Linked DNA regions of Homo sapiens: region 1 is linked to region 2. Evidence: fine-mapped expression QTL. A gene starts in region 2. The other region holds a variant in brackets. All regions are shown on one strand. Distances are between the middles of the regions. Region 1 has its middle 31 kb from the start of ARC. Region 2 holds the start of ARC (activity regulated cytoskeleton associated protein).

Region 1 (5,357 bases), 31 kb after region 2:
TGCACCCGGCCAGCTTCTTCCCATTTCCACACGGACGTCCCCCTCTCAGAAGCCATTTCCCCAGTTAGCTCATCTAAGGGCAGGGCCCCATGACCACCTCCAGCCCGTTCCCTCCCTGCCTCACCCCAGCACTCCAGCTCCTCCAAGTGTGGCCCCTCCCGCAGCACCGCATTTTCCTGTGACCGGACTTGTCCAAGTGCTTTTCATATCGACACTCAGTCTTCATCACAACCACGTGCAGCCGACACTGGTTTACAGGTGGGGAAACTGAGGCACCTAGCCATTCAGTCATCTCCCCAGGCCCCACAGCACGCGATGGAGGACGAGGTTGAGGGCGGGGCCTGCGGCAGGCACTGGTTCACAGTCACACGCAAGGCTTGGCCACCTCGGGCTCGGGAAGGTGCTGCTGTGGAGACGGGTGCAGGAGGGGCCCCCAGTCCTGAGAGCTCAGCTTCCCCGATCCTCACCACCCAGCCCCCGCCTCCCCCCAGCGAGGCTCCTATCCCACGCAGCTCCGGGGCATTTGGGGACCCAGAACCAGGAAGAAAGGAGGTGGGAGGGAGACAGCAGGTGGTGTGTGGGGTGGGGTTGGAGGAGAACTTCCAGGGAGTCAGAGATAGACACAGGAGCAGCCGCGGCCTGGGTGGGCAGGGACGGGAGGCGCAGTGGGTTTTTAGGACGTGCCCCCACGTGCCCCTTGCAGAAACCTGAGAAATGCAAGGGAAGGACCTGGAGTTTGATGGCGCCGCTGCGACCCCTCACGCTGTCTCCCAGCGGGGGCCACGCAGAGGCCACCGTGACTGCTGAGGGGAAGGGCGTCCTGTGGAGTCCAGCGGAAGGAAGGGAGGCTCCCACCTGCACAGCCCCTCGGCCCTGTCAGCCTCCTCTCCTGACTGCACTGCTGTGAAGCCTCCATTCAGTCCTAAGACAAAACCTTAGCTCCTGAGCCCTGCGTTTCTAAAGGGCTCTGCAAACCGGCACCGACTCGCTGCTCCACTGCAGAAGCCACGTGGGTCCCCCAGGCCGGGCCACCGCGCCCAGCGCTCCTGCCCCCGGAATGGCTGCACTCGTCCCACTCCGGGCCTTTGAATGTCGTTCTCTCTGCTGCAAGACTTTTCCTTCCTCACCACTTAGCAAACTCCTGTCTGTGCCTTCAGCTCCAACCCAGAGCCCCTTCCTCTGGGAGGCCTGCCCAGATTTTCTCCACTGACCTTTTTGGATGGCTCTCCCTTTACAAGCCTGTCTCCTCTCCTGGGCTTCGAGCCCTCAGGGGTGAAGATGACCTTGGTTACATCTTTTTCTCCCTTTCCCAAGCCAATGTAGGACAGAACATTCTGGGCACTCAATTATTCTATGCAGGATGCATGAGTCGGCGGGTGACAGGCCTGCTCTGGGAGCCGTGGGCTGCAGCAGGGCTCAGCCGAGATGGGGGAGGAGACTGTGCATGCCCACCCTGTGTCCCACCCAGATGGGGCCCTTCCCCACCCACAAGCGCCACGCTGCCTCTGCCACCCCGTGCCCCAGGTCCACGGTCCCCCATCCCCTCTGTGGACTTCAGGCGGCATGGTGGGGGGCACCGTCCATGGGTGAAAGGCACAGACCAGCCACCGCAGGTCCTGCACGGGCTCCGCAGAGCAGCCACTCTCCAGGCTCGGTGTCCCCTTTGTGAAGTAAGCTGTCACCAGTCAGGGCCCTGTCCCTCGCCGAGGGGCGCCCCAGGGGAGGCGTGGCTGTGCTCAGCCTCGTCTTGTGGAGTCTGGATCTCCACGTACTCCACGCCCGGCTTTCCAGTCCATGCTAGTAGTGACCAGTGCACACTGAGGAACTCAGACCAAGTTCTGGGGACCCTGTGGGAGTCCTTTCTCAGACACCAGTGGGGTGGCGGGGGGAGGGTGGGTATAGACCCCTGTCCCTGACTCCAGCCCTTCTCCTGGCCTCCCAGCCTCCAGTCTGTCTCTGCCCTGTCTCTCACCCCATGACAGAGCTTATCCCTGGGCTTGGGACCTCCCCTGGACTCTACTCCAGGGCCCTGCCGCTCCTCCCCTCACTCCAACTCACTCACAGGTGCCTTGACCTCAGCCCGGCCAAAGCGGAGCTTGCCCCCGACCCCCAGCCTGCTTTTCCTGAGGTGCTCACCCCGTAAGGCCTCGGGGTCCCCAGGGCAGCAGCTCCTCCCGCCCACCGCCCCAGAGTCCTGACTTTGCTGCTCCCAGCTCCCGTTTCTCCACAAAACCTCCCCTAGGCCTTGGCCGTGGCTCCTGTCAATGACGCCACCCCCACTCCACGCCCATGGCACCCCCAGCTACTCCTCCCTGCCCCTCTCGAAGTATTTCCCGGAGAGAACCTGACTCTCACCCATGCTCTGCCCCACCTCTGGCAGACCCCTTGGTCCCTGTGCCTGGCCGGCTGCACCCAGGTCCCTGAGAAGCTGTGTGCCGCTGAGCTCTGCTTCTCTAAGAATGGCCCTGTAAACCCTGGTTAGACCAATGGCTGCCCGCCTAAGCCTGGCCCTGTCACCTCTGTCCCTGGGTCCCCCTGGGCCAATTCCAGCCTCTCTTCTAGAGGGTCCCCTGCTGTCTGCAGGGTTTGTGGGGACTAGGAAACTCATGTTTCCCTAGGGAGCCCGGGGGCCTGGGTCAGGGTCTCTGTCCCTCCCCCACTTCTGCCTCATCCCACCCTCACCCCAAATTCCCTCCGGAGGTCTGGGGAAGGAGTGAGCCCAGGGGTCCTGTCAGGGAGCAGGGGGCAGCAGGCCTGCTCCTGGGTCTCCCTACAGTCCCCAAAGCCAGGCTGTCCAGCAGGGAGGGTGCTTGGGGCCCAAGTTGCTGAAGGAGGCCACCTGTGGTCATCCCCCCTGGCCGCCCAGCGAGCCACACACAGGAGCCTTGTCTCTAGGCCTGGCC[A/G]CCACCCCTCCAGCTCTGTGCCAAAACCACTTTCCACGGCTGGAGACGGGGTCCCAGACCAAGGCCTCAGCCCAGTGGCCCAGGTCCCAGGCCCCCAGTTCTCTTCAGAGCCCTGGGCCTATCTCTCCAGGGGCAGCTGTTGGCATGGGGGGAGAAACCCTGGGGACCACACCCTCTACACACCCCTCCACAGCCACCTGGAGCCTGGAGCCGCGTCTCCACTCCCTTCTGTCCCCCAGCCTCACACACGCCCCTGAGAAAGGCTATGGCTGTGGCTCAGGGAGCTCCCCACTGCAGCAGTTATGAAGCTGGGATATTCTCTTAGGAACTTTCCCAGCTCCCCAGGGTTGGTGGTGATGACAAGCGTCTCTCAGAGGACAGCTCTTTAAAAAATTAAAAACAAAACAAAACAAAACTCTATTACTGGACAGAGTTTCCTCAGGGATGTTATCTCTTAAGAGTCTCCTAAAGAAGACTCAGGGTGACCCCATAGTGGAGCTGGCTGTGTCCTAGGCGGGGGTCATTCCCGAGGCCTCCAGCAGGACTGAGGGGCCACGTCCTTCTCCAGCCTGCCCAGGACCGAGGCTGCTGTCACCAGCGTGTCCCATTGTGGGGAGTGGGAGAAGGCTTTACTGCTAAGTTTCCTGACATGGCAGTGGGTTTAGCCACGCCCTAGCTGTCTCTGCTGGGGGCTTGTAATCCCAGGAAAGCCCCTCTGAAGATGCCTGGGCCGTCAGTCATGAGCCCGAGGGCAGCCGCATCCCCCGCCTCTGGACTGGTTCCATTCTTCAGGTCAATCCTGGACCGCAATCTCAGGCAGTGGGGCTGACTCATGGACTCGAGGGAGGACACGCACGATCCCAAATGACAGTGAGCCCAAACCCATAGCATGAGCTAAGGCGACCACCCCATCCGTGGTGTTCTTGGAGCCCTCCAGCCTCTTCCTGGGGATGGTTAGGGGCTGGTGAGGGTTTCTAGGAAGGGAAGCCCCTCCCCAGAGCCCTGGTCAGTGGCCCCTCCTAGGGGACCCTTCCTCAGGCCAACTGTGGGCTCCACTGTCTCAGGGCCCCTGCCTGGGTCAGGGTACTGCGGCTTCCTGTTTCCAGAGCTTCCTCCTTCTCAGCCTCAGGGCCACGTGTGCTCAGGAATTCCCTCAGCTGCCTGCAGAGTCAGTTGAGGCCAGAATCCTTTGGGTGAAGTTCCCCTCAACCTCCAGACTGTTGAGAACTGGTCCCTTGTAAGCCCTTGGCTGCTGGACAGGCTTTCTCGGGAAGCAATCTTGCTGACTCTGCAGACAGTGGCTCGCTGGGTCTGGGGTGGATACCTGTGGGAAGGTATCACCCCCAACCCTGCACGGTGGCAGTTGCTGGGCTCACCTGTGGGGGCTGCTGGGTAGCCTGGTCCAGTTCTAAGATCCCTCAGGGCACCTGGAAGTCTGTCCCCTGCAGCTGAGAACCAAACCTCACCTCGGGAATCCCTTCCCAACACCTCCGCAGCAGCCGCTGTGCAGAAGAGGCCTCTGGGGGCTCAGTGGTACACACGCACCCTGAGAATGCCTCCCTTTCTGCTGCCATCAAGGGAGAGTAACGCGGTCGAGGCGCTCCCCTGCCTGCCGCCTGGTCCCTTCTCCTTGGTCGGATGACGTCTAGGAGCCTAGCAAGCAATTTCTGTTTTGGGGTGGATGGGCAGACGGGGCGGTCACCCACGGACGGGCAGACGGGGCGGTCACCCACGGACGGGCAGACGGGGCGGTCACTCACGGACGGGCAGACGGGGCGGTCACCCACGGCTGGGGCTGATCAGTCTCCCTAGCAAAGCTTCTGCTGTTTGCGGGTGGACGGGCAGACGGGGCAGTCACTCACGGCCGGGGCTGATCAGTCTCCCTAGCAAAGCTTCTGGGACAAGCGGGGAGACCCAGGATGACTGTGAGCTCAGGGGCCAGCCTCTTGGCACCTCCAGCTCCATCCCATGGCTGGGCCCAGCCTAGTTTAAATTCCCCTCGGTTGGGACAGCCACGCTCTGGAGCTTCCTCCCAGAAAACTCAGCAAGTTTGCCCCAGGCTGAGAGAGGAGAGGGCCTGGTGTCCTGCTCCCAGCAGCCGCCTCTCCCCGCACTCATGAGGCCCCTCCTTGGCTGGGCAGCGCCCCCACCCTCTCCCACCCTCTCCTGGAAGACCTGACCCCTCCCATCTTCTCCTCAGACTCCAGGGCCACCAGGGTCTCAGACCTCTGACCCCAGGGCAGGGCGGAACCTGTGCTGGCTGCCCCTCGGCTTCTTCTCCGGCTGGCCCTCCCTAACCCAAAGGGAGTATTTGCTGGTTTGTCCTTTCCTTGCCTTAAAAAAAAAAACATCAGTTTTGGCTTTAAATAAGTATTTTCTTCTCTGAGAAGGGTAAATCCATGCTCATTGCAGACTCGTTGGACAATTTTGAAAAGGATTCAGAAAAAAAAAAAA
Region 2 (5,357 bases):
TGCAGGACCCCTCCTCTCAGGCAGGTGGGGCCTCAGAGTGGTCAGACCTGCGCAGCAGCAGACCAGGTTGGCTTTGAGAGTGGGGATCCCCCAGGTGCTCCCAATCTCCTTGTGCAGGTCTAGCCCCCACCCCCTTCCCCTGTTCCTTCCCCCACCTGCATCCCCAAGCCATGCTGCTCCAGTGGCTGTCAGGGACGGGCACGGGGTGGGGGTGGGCTGGAGAGAGGAGCAGGGCAGGCCCCTGTCAGGAGAGGCCCCCGCCCCAGGTGGATGGGAGTCAGCCTGGCCTCCTTTCCCGAGGCTGCAGTGCGGGGGTTTGGTGAGGGCTTCTGGGGCGATAATTGGGCAGCGATTAAGCGTTCCTGGCAGCTGCGGCTGTTGCCTGTCACCGGTCAGCTCAGGCCTGCATTCACAGCCTCTGCAGACCCTGCTGGAGGGGGTTGGGGAGGGGAAGACGGGGCTCCGCGTGGCACCCCCGACGCTGCCTGCCCTCGTGCCATCCAGGGCAGGCACTGTGCTCTCCCACCGGTCTCGGCTTGGCCACTTCTGGCTTGCTGTTTAGCAGGTGACAGGGGTGGTGATGGGCCACGGGGCATTGAGCAGAGGACGCCAGGATTCCTCACCAAGGGCCTGGCTCCTGCCCAGCCCTGCCTTGCTCACCGGGCCACCTTGGGCACTCACCCTTCTCCAGGCCTGGCTCCCTCCACACAGGTGAGGGAACTGAGGCAGCGGCACCACCTATGACCTTGGCTCACGTGTCCCCAGTCCTGCCTCCTTGTCAGCTTGCTGATGCCTTGGGTGGGGGTGGCAGCTGGAGGCCACTGCTGGCCAGAGGCCTAAGAGCTGTGCCCTGGCGGGGACGTCAGAGGCCACACGGGCTTGTAAACCCTGGCGGGGCTGGCCCCTGGTCATTGAAGTGCTGGCTCTCACAATGGACACACATGCACGGTCAGTGCCCAGCACCCAGACAACACCTACAGGCTCAGGCTGGCCCCAACCCGGACATGTGGCCCTCGGTGACCGCTGGCTGCACTCACCCAAGGCTGCTGGCGTCTGCCCGTCCCGCATGTGCCCACCCAGCTCCTCTCCCTGGGATTCCGCAGTGGAGAAGCGGGAAGGTCCCTGTGCTGGAGACTTCTCTGCCTGGCTCCCCCTCCCAGCTCCGCGGTGCCCCTCCGCCCTCCCTTCTCTGTCCGCCCACTTACCTTTAATTAGAAATGCCAGGAGAGCCATTTTTGGGGAGTTTTTTTGCCAGAAAGACATTCCCCCCCAGGGGCGGAAGGAAGGAGGAGACAGACTGGCTCTGAGGCTGGGAGAGGGCTCCCCGGGAGAGCCGGTTGGGGGGGGGCTCAGAGGGTTGGCAGGGAGGGGGGATTCCAGCAAGTGGGCACCTGTGTGCCCTTGAGTGCCTGAATAAGACAGGGGATGCTGGGGGGAGCTGAGGGCTGTGAGTGGGGGGTATGAGTGTGTATGTGGGAGCTATGAGTGGGGGGTATGAGTGTGTATGTGGGAGCTATGAGTGGGGGGTATGAGTGTGTGTGGGGGCTGTGAGTGAGGGCATGAGTGTGTGGGGTGGGGTTAGAGTGGGGGCTATGAGTGTGTATGTGGGGGTGTGAGTGTGCAGCATGTGTGTGTCTGAGAGAGGGAAAGGGCAGCTGGCAGCAGGAACAAGATGTCTTGATTGTCAGCGATGATGTCCTCATGGCCCTCTGGCTGTGGGGAATGGTGTGTGTCACCCCTGCCTGGGTAACATCAGAGGACCTGAGACCCATGCCTATCCAGCCAGCACTGGAGTAACTCAGGAAGGGCGTCCCTACCCCCGCCAGGTTGCCAGGGAGGCAGAAGGGACCTCCCTCCCGAGGGAGTCTCGGCTTCCGGAGCCCCGCTCCTTATATGGTGCTTGGCTTCCCTCTGCCTCTCCTGATGGCACTGTGCTGCCAGCACCGGCCCCCCTCCCTCTCCCTCCTCGCCTCTCCTCCCTCCCCTTCTCCTTTCCCTCCTTCCACCTCCCTCCCTGTCTCCCTCTCTCCTCCCCTCTTCCATCCCCTTAGAAGTCTTGGAGCCTCTGGCCAGGTTCTTGATATAGCCAGGGTCTTCAGGGCCCAATTCCCTTCACTGGGGGCTAAATGTCCCCTCCATGTCCTCCAAACCCCAGCCCCCCAGGTAGCAGCTGCCAGATTTCCCTGGAAACACAGAAAAGTATTGGGCCTCACCAGAGACCTGCGTATGGGGGCATGGGGCAGCCCTGTCCAGTCACTGCCACGTGGGCCCCTGTCACCCATGCACACCAACGCCAGGGCCAGGCAGAGCGAGCCTCTGCCTGGCTGTGCGTCCCTCACACAGAGCCCAAGACCTGGACTCAGGACCCGGGCAGGAGTGAGTGGGAGCTCAAAGCCACATCTGGGAGCTCACATGGAGACTTGCTGAGCCCCTGGGCACAGAGGCTGATGGTGAGGGTCCTTCCCGGGCTCAGCTGCACATCCTGCAGAGCTGGGTGGGCGGGGTCAGGGGCAGTGAGGACCCAGGAGAGCAGTGGCCAGCGCCAGCCCCCTCCAGCCCCGCAAAGAGAGAGGCGAGTGGAGAGGAGGAAGGCCACCTTGGGACCCTGGGAGGCAGCAGATGACAGCCCGCCCAGCGCCCGGGAGGGGGCGTGGGAGGGGCGCCCAGTGCCCGGCTCAGTCCCTCGGTCCCCGCAGGCTGAATGAGCCCCGCCGTCCGGGGTGGGAGGTACGGAGCGGAGGGATTAGTCATCCTGGCCCCGCCATGTGTGCAGGGGGTGGGACCTCCCGTCCCTTGCCGCCCGGGAGCCGAGTGGGCGCAGGGCGGGGCCTGCAGGGGCGCGGGCGGGGCGCTGGCGGGGAGCCTGCGGCTGGGCCAATGAGAAACCGGGCTCGGCGAGCCGGCCGCCCACGGGCCTCGCTGGCTGCATAAAGAGCCGGCGGCCAGGACTCAGCGCAGAGCTCGGGCGCGGCGTCCTCCCTCCGCAGCAGCCGAGCCGGACCTGCCTCCCCGGGCGTGCTCCGCCGGCCCCGCCGCCGGCCCGCAGCGACAGACAGGCGCTCCCCGCAGCTCCGCACGGGACCCAGGCCGCCGGACCCCAGCGCCGGACCACCCTCTGTCCGCCCCGAGGAGTTTGCCGCCTGCCGGAGCACCTGCGCACAGATGGAGCTGGACCACCGGACCAGCGGCGGGCTCCACGCCTACCCCGGGCCGCGGGGCGGGCAGGTGGCCAAGCCCAACGTGATCCTGCAGATCGGGAAGTGCCGGGCCGAGATGCTGGAGCACGTGCGGCGGACGCACCGGCACCTGCTGGCCGAGGTGTCCAAGCAGGTGGAGCGCGAGCTGAAGGGGCTGCACCGGTCGGTCGGGAAGCTGGAGAGCAACCTGGACGGCTACGTGCCCACGAGCGACTCGCAGCGCTGGAAGAAGTCCATCAAGGCCTGCCTGTGCCGCTGCCAGGAGACCATCGCCAACCTGGAGCGCTGGGTCAAGCGCGAGATGCACGTGTGGCGCGAGGTGTTCTACCGCCTGGAGCGCTGGGCCGACCGCCTGGAGTCCACGGGCGGCAAGTACCCGGTGGGCAGCGAGTCAGCCCGCCACACCGTTTCCGTGGGCGTGGGGGGTCCCGAGAGCTACTGCCACGAGGCAGACGGCTACGACTACACCGTCAGCCCCTACGCCATCACCCCGCCCCCAGCCGCTGGCGAGCTGCCCGGGCAGGAGCCCGCCGAGGCCCAGCAGTACCAGCCGTGGGTCCCCGGCGAGGACGGGCAGCCCAGCCCCGGCGTGGACACGCAGATCTTCGAGGACCCTCGAGAGTTCCTGAGCCACCTAGAGGAGTACTTGCGGCAGGTGGGCGGCTCTGAGGAGTACTGGCTGTCCCAGATCCAGAATCACATGAACGGGCCGGCCAAGAAGTGGTGGGAGTTCAAGCAGGGCTCCGTGAAGAACTGGGTGGAGTTCAAGAAGGAGTTCCTGCAGTACAGCGAGGGCACGCTGTCCCGAGAGGCCATCCAGCGCGAGCTGGACCTGCCGCAGAAGCAGGGCGAGCCGCTGGACCAGTTCCTGTGGCGCAAGCGGGACCTGTACCAGACGCTCTACGTGGACGCGGACGAGGAGGAGATCATCCAGTACGTGGTGGGCACCCTGCAGCCCAAGCTCAAGCGTTTCCTGCGCCACCCCCTGCCCAAGACCCTGGAGCAGCTCATCCAGAGGGGCATGGAGGTGCAGGATGACCTGGAGCAGGCGGCCGAGCCGGCCGGCCCCCACCTCCCGGTGGAGGATGAGGCGGAGACCCTCACGCCCGCCCCCAACAGCGAGTCCGTGGCCAGTGACCGGACCCAGCCCGAGTAGAGGGCATCCCGGAGCCCCCAGCCTGCCCACTACATCCAGCCTGTGGCTTTGCCCACCAGGACTTTTGAGCTGGGGCTGACTCCTGCAGGGGAAGCCCTGGTCCAGCTGGGTGCCCCCTCGAGCTCCGGGCGGACTCGCACACACTCGTGTCATCCAGATGTGAGCACCGCACCCAGCGGCAAAGAGCCCTCCCCCCTGCAGGGCTCCACCCATCACCCTCCCTCCGTCTGTCTTTCCGGCCTGGACCCCACCCTCCACACTCTCAGGCCATCACAGAACACCCCAGCTTCCTCATTCTGCTACAACACCCAGGCCCTCTGGACATCCAGAAAACCAAGTGTCCGGATGGCAGGGGCCAGCGGCCACCAAGCTCATGGGACACCCAGAGCAGAAGCTAGGGCAGAGCCAATGCTGAGGGAGCCTCGACTTCCGGCGCCGCCGCCCTCTCCCGGCATCCGCAGAGCCAGCTGACGCCCTCCCTGCCTCCCAGGGCAGCTGGCCAGCCTCGGGCAGCGCGGCCCCCTCCTCCCAGGGGAGAGTAGAAGTCGCACACGCAGCAGAGCAGACCTGATGTCCCGGTGCTTCCTGGCCCCTCAGGTGAGCCCCTGCCCCAAGGCAGTACCGGCTGTGGGGCATCTGAGAGCTGGCGGGATCCGGAGGCTGTTTTCTAGGAGAGCCCACTGAGGCTTGGGCCCCCAGCAAGTTAGCCAAAGGGATGGGGTGGGGCTGGCATCATGGAAGGGGGCATTGGGGAGAGTGGGCCGGGTGGGAGGCAGGGGCAGTTTGCTGAGCCAGCTCTCACATGGACCCGCGCTTTCTCTCCCCCAGCTCCAGTGATTCACGCCCGCCTGGAGAAGAATCAGAGCTCAGCTCATGACTCACCCATGGCAGGCGGAGGGTCCCAGAGGGGCTGAGTCCTCAAATCCGGCTGAGGCAGCAGCTGGCACCATCAGAGCCAGGAGAGTGACAACAGGTAACGGAGCACCACCCTTCCACCCAGACCC

Evidence for each region. PIP is the estimated chance that this variant, and not a neighbour inherited with it, causes the effect.
Region 1: its variant is the best candidate, but not a certain one, in a credible set for the expression of ARC in whole blood (TOPMed, PIP 0.51).

The regions. Positions count from the first base shown.
Region 1 is chr8:142,580,828-142,586,184 of GRCh38, reverse strand. No RefSeq gene overlaps it. Among named protein-coding and RNA genes, the nearest start is that of ARC, 31 kb to the left of the region's middle. RefSeq lists an enhancer at 1-386. The variant A/G (reference allele first, on the strand shown) is at 2,904.
Region 2 is chr8:142,612,077-142,617,433 of GRCh38, reverse strand. ARC (activity regulated cytoskeleton associated protein) reads left to right here and starts at 2,955. Exons shown (of 3, transcript NM_015193.5): 1 at 2,955-4,950; 2 at 5,182-5,326. The coding sequence starts at 3,163. The coding sequence ends at 4,353. RefSeq lists a silencer at 2,639-2,848 and an enhancer at 2,864-3,762.